2 separate regions of the Homo sapiens genome follow, and region 2 is linked to region 1. A link means that fine-mapping ties the variant in region 1 to the expression of a gene that starts in the linked region. Tissue or cell type: whole blood. Region 1 holds a variant in brackets; the other region holds the start of a gene. All regions are shown on one strand. Distances are from middle to middle.

What was found. PIP is the estimated chance that this variant, and not a neighbour inherited with it, causes the effect.
Region 2: it holds the start of NEK3, and the variant in region 1 is fine-mapped to the expression of NEK3 in whole blood (TOPMed, PIP above 0.99).

What each region holds. Positions count from the first base shown.
Region 1 is chr13:51,954,860-51,957,544 of GRCh38, reverse strand. It overlaps ATP7B (ATPase copper transporting beta), which reads left to right. Exons shown (of 21, transcript NM_000053.4): 9 at 1-29. Among named protein-coding and RNA genes, the nearest start is that of ATP7B, 55 kb to the left of the region's middle. The variant CT/T (reference allele first, on the strand shown) is at 1,277.
Region 2 is chr13:52,158,284-52,160,968 of GRCh38, reverse strand. It overlaps NEK3 (NIMA related kinase 3), which reads left to right and starts at 1,372. Exons shown (of 16, transcript NM_002498.3): 1 at 1,372-1,426. RefSeq lists silencers at 1,436-1,495, 1,576-1,685.

The DNA of each region.
Region 1 (2,685 bases):
ACCCTTGGTGAGGACAATTTAATCATCAGGTGAGTTATGGTTATCAAATGTCTTTGTGGTTGGTATCTATCAATCTGTGTGAGCTGCATCAGATGCCCATGTTGTATTGACATTGCAATAGACCTTGTGAGTGTGGGCAGAGACACAGTAAGATCACCACTCTCAATCCAGCTACGAAAGCAAGGCATTGAACTATAAAACTAGCAAGATTTGTAGGTGGTGTGTGTGTGCGAAATGGCACATGGGAGGTGTAGATGATTAGTATTCCAGGAATTAAGAAGAGGAAGGCCAGTGTTGGTCAAGGGAAACTTCACAGAGAACATAGAGTATGAATTAGGCCTTCCTAGTAAGATACACATTCAGACAGGCAGAGAGATAAGGACTTCAACTTGCTAAAGAATAAAAATTGAAGGAGAAATTTATCTTCTTCTTAAGGTTGCCTGATATTAAAAATAATAATTATTATTATTCCTGGAAACTCTTGTTGCATTTATTGTTTGCTAGACACTATTCTAATCTCTTTGTATTTAATCTAACCAAAGATGGAAACTTTCTGAGGCAGGGACTATTATTACTCTTAATTTACAGATGAGGAAGCTGAGGTTCAGAGAGGCTAAGCAACTGGCCCAAGGTCACACAGGTATTCAGTAATGGAATTGGGATGTAACCCAGGCTGGTGGATCCAGAGTCTATTTTCTTAACCTTTACACACACTGACTCTTAATGCATATTTAATAATATGGAAATTTTTCTAATTAAGGCTTCTGTATTTCCTTGGGGTTAGCTTCTTTTTTATATTCTAGGCAATGGTTATTTCAGCCCTCCTTCATATTCCTAAAATCTCTCCCTGGTCCCACCACATTTTCTATTAGCCTGTGGTCTCGCTTTGGACTACTGGAAGGAGAAGTGTTCAGATGGAAACCCTCCAGTTCCCTGTCCCTCAGCCTACACAGCTAGCCTCCTCCGTGGCACCTCCCGCTCCTGCCCCGTTGGTGGGAGAGGCGTCTCCTCCAATGCCTCTACCCGGGAACCTTTCTCTGTTGGTTTTCTCAGTGGTTTTTGGTGTCTCTGATTCTTATCCTCCGATGTCATGCAGACTCTAACCACTCCCATTTTCAGAGGCGTTGTGCCTTGCCCCTCCCTTGTGTGCCCTTGTCCATGTATCACACTGTTGATGGAGCCAGCCTGCCCTAGCTGTGTCCTGGAGGCCTGGGCGTGAAGGCTGAGACAGACCCCTTGCTTCCCCATGGGGTCTGCAGGGCTGGTGCAGCTGGCC[CT/T]GGGCACGCCCCAGGTGAGTAGAGGAACTGACCGGGGCCACACAGATGCATGAGTGTTCATGAGGTGCAGGCTGGCTGCTGCGCGGTGGCACTGGTTTTGTTCTGGATCCTGGCTTTTAAATGATCATCACAATTGTAGGACTGGCAACTGAGATTTGAGTCCTTCTGGTGTTCCAGGCTCACTCCCCAGCACTTGCCACAGATCGTCTAGTTCCACTCTGTAGCTGTTCCGTGAGGCAGCACTGTCATCATCCCAGCTTTCCTCAGGAAAAGCCAAGTGCAGTGAGGTGGAGTAATATCCCCAGAGTCCATGGCAGGCAGGCAGCAGAGCTGGGATTGGAACCCTGGAGGCACAGAGCCCCCCTCAGCCACTGTGCTGCGCTGCCCCCAAACAGGACCCTGTGTGACGGCACCTGGCATGCTGGGCTCTGCTGTGCCATGGGTCTGCAGCAGTCACATGCCTTGGCTTCTTTTTTTTTTCTTCTCTTATAAATTAATTGCATGAAAGTTTCTGAGAAGTGAAAACGTTCAGACAGGGAGCCAAGCCGCTGGCAGCTGTGTTGGTTTTGACTCATGTTTCCTCCAACTCGCCTTGCTAGGGTCTTCGGTACAGTTTGAGGCGCCTCTGATGGCACTGACTGCAGTTGCTTGGAACTATTCCAGGGATCTGAACAGGAGGAGAAGGCATCTGCCGGCCGAAGTGCCCACGGGGTGCGTGCAGCACCTGTCATAACTCAGTTCTTTTCCAAGAATGCCGATTCATTTTTTGGCTGGGGACGCACGGCCTGACTACTACCATGCAACATGACAGGACATTATTAAGCTAGGGGCCAGAAGACCAGAGTTCATTCTGCCTTTGGCTCACTGTTTGGGTGTGGTCATTCCTACTTGCCTCCTGACAGCACACCCCGAGCCCAACCCTCTGTCCCAGGCCAAGGCTGCACCCACTGCCGCCTGGATTGCCGCAGTCTAGGCCTCCCCTGAGCTCAACCATTCTGTGCTTTGAGGTGCACTGGACACTGGTTTCCCAGTGACTCTGCCTCCCACAGGGCCCTCCCGCGTCTGGGCCTCTGCTTGTGCCTTTGGTCCATGGCACCATCTGAAGGCCCCCAGAGGTTCTCGCATAACTGCCCTCTTTGACTGAGGCTTGGGCTTCTTCCTCTGACCATCCCTTTGCTGGGGACACTTGTGCTTTCTCTTTACTCCAAGTCTTGGGTGCTGGCAGCGTTTCTAGGTGCGATCCGTCTGGCACACTGTAGTTTCCTTGCTGCTGCTGCTGCTTAGTCTCCATGGGCTTTCTTCTCTCCTTTTTCCTTGTGGATGGTCCTTGGGGTTCTGGTGGTACTGCCTCTGTCTTTGTGTGTTACACACCGTCACTGGGACGTCTCACTCTCCCACGTCTTTGGTT
Region 2 (2,685 bases), 200 kb before region 1:
TTGACACGTTATAATGAACACGTTCAGCGCTTACAAGTAAAGGGTAACCAGATGTTGTTCACAGTAATCCTATGAGGTAGGTTCTATACTTTTATACAGAGGGATTTAGTTACTCTGCTGTATTAGTTTCCTAAGGCTTCTGTAACAAACTGTGACAACCTAAGTGGCTAAAACGACACGAATTTATTACCTTACAGTTCTGAAGTTCAGAAATACAGCTCACTGGGTTAAAATCAAGGCGTCAGTGTGCATGGTGGTTTTCCTGTAGTCCCAGCCACTCAGGAGGCTGAGGTGGGCGGATCGCTTGAGCCCGGGAGCTCAAAACCAGTCTTGGCAACATAGCAAGACCCTGTTTCAAAAAACAAAAAAATCAAGGGGTCAGCTGGACTGTTACTTCTGGAAGCTCTGGGGAACAATTTGGTTTTTGTTTTTTGTTTTTCCCTCCTTTTCTAGCTTCTCCTCCTTTTCCACCTCCCACCTCCTCCTTTATATATATATATATATATATATATATATTTTTTTTTTTTTTTGGAGACAGGTTCTTGCTCTGTCACCAAAGCTGGACTGCAGTGGTGGGATCATGAGCCCTCTCCAGCTCTAGTGATCCTCCTGCCCCAATCCCCCGAGCAGCTGGGACCACAGTGCCCGTCGCTATGTCTAGTTAATTTTTCGTAGAGACGAGTGTCTCACTATGTTGCCCAGGCTGATCTCGAACTCCTGGGCTAAAGTGTTCCTCTCCTGCCTCTGCCTTCCAAAGCACTGGGATTGCAAACATGAGACACTGTGCCTGCTCCTCTTCCAGCTTCTTGAGGCCAGCTGCATTCCTTGGCTGTTGCCCCTTCCTCCACCTTCAAATAGCTTTCTCATACTGACCTTCTTTTTGGGCCCCTTCCACTTTAGAGAACCCTTGTAATTACTTTGTAATTACCCAAGCACACACTCCAAGATCGTCACCTTATTTTAAAGTCCGCTGATAAGCAACCTTAATTCCATCTGCAATCTTAACCCCCTCTGCCAAGCAAGAGAACAAACGCACAGGTTCCAGGGAGTAGGATGTGGACATCCTGAGGCGGAAGCATTATCCCGCCTTCCACAATTGCCCAAGGTCACATAGCTAGTAAGTTCTAGCTAGCACTGAGTGCTGTGCCCGTGAAATTTATCTACATAGGCTTTCACTTAACCTGCAGACAGAACTCAGTTAGTCGGGGACAATTTCCCTCAATGTTAACAGCACTGTTCCACCGCAACGTGGAACAACAGCTTTAAAACGTGCTCTTCGTAGGCCCGGCTACTCCAAGAACAGTGCCTCCCGCCAGACCCAGGCGGCTTCCTTCACCCGCAACCCGAGAGACGACCCGCCGGGCCCGCCCCGCGGAAGCCGCCGGTTGCCAGGCCAAGGAGTGGACTAGGGTCGCCGGGGAAGCGGGTGAGTGGTCCCCGCCCTGGCGGGCTGCCTCTAGAACGAGGAGGGCGGCGCGTGGTCGCGGCGCGGAGCCGAGTGGGAGCGAGGGGTAGACGCGCCCCGGACGCGCGGCCGCGCCCCTCACTTCCGCCCCGCGGTCTGGACCACTCGCCGCAAACCCGCAAGTCCCTCGCCGCCTTGGGGTCTGGGCGCGCGGTGCCGTGGGGGTCAGCAGGGCGGAGCGGCTTTTCCAGGAGAAAGGGCCCTCACGGGTGAGCGGGGCGACTGGGCTCCCCCGCGGTGCAGTTGCCCCGCGGGCGCCGGCCCCGGCTCAACGGATTCTTCTCGCTCGCTGCCCGGAAAGAACCAGTGAGAACCGCTGTTGCAGCAAAAAAAGAAGTTAATAAGCGCAGGGCTGGCCAAACCAGAACAGGGTCTCAGACCTGTCTCCCCGAGAATTCGGGGGCGAGGGTTTTAAAGGGCATTTTGGCTTCGGGGGGCTGGGGAACTGAAACAGTTGACCGGCTGGGGATGAAATCACAAGAGCTTCTGAAACTCGGGGCGGCTTCGTTGGTTCCCAGGAAGGGGTGGGGTCAGTTTCCCTTGTCTTGAAGTTTACACGAAATCCCTCTCCCAGTTATCCTAGCCTCTGTGCTAGAATAAGAAAACGACAACACGGTGAAAACTTAGCCCGTGAGGTTAGAAGCAAGATGGAGTCAGTCATGTTAGATTTCTCGCATTACTTATACATCTGTAAAGGTGGTTTCAGGGACCTTTCTGAACTTAGCCCGTATCTCACTGGTGATCCCACTTCTGGGTATTTGCAAATCACTTTATTAGGTTTTTAAAAGTATTGTTGCAGGCATGCGAAGGGGCCGATATACTTTTGCCATGTCCAGAGTGTATTCAGGTCTTGTAATGATCATATGGGTGTAATATTGAGTAACAGGCAAATGTGGGCAGAAAATATCAAATGTGGTTTTCAGCTAAGAAGTCTGGTTGCTCTTAATTTTCAGTTACTCTCCATTGCATAGAATAAAGCCCCGAAGAAACGAAGAATAAGATCATGGGGAAACTTGGCTTCCATGTTAAACCGTGTAATACCAGGTGTTAGAATAGTAGTAAAGGACTTGTTTCTTTCACATCTATATACACTCAAAAGACCTCATCGATCTTGGAAAAACATTGTTTCGAAGACAATGTGTATGACTGATTTGGTTATATGAAGAAATTATTTCTAGGATTTCCTGGTAATTCTGTGATAAACAGTAATACAAACTGGA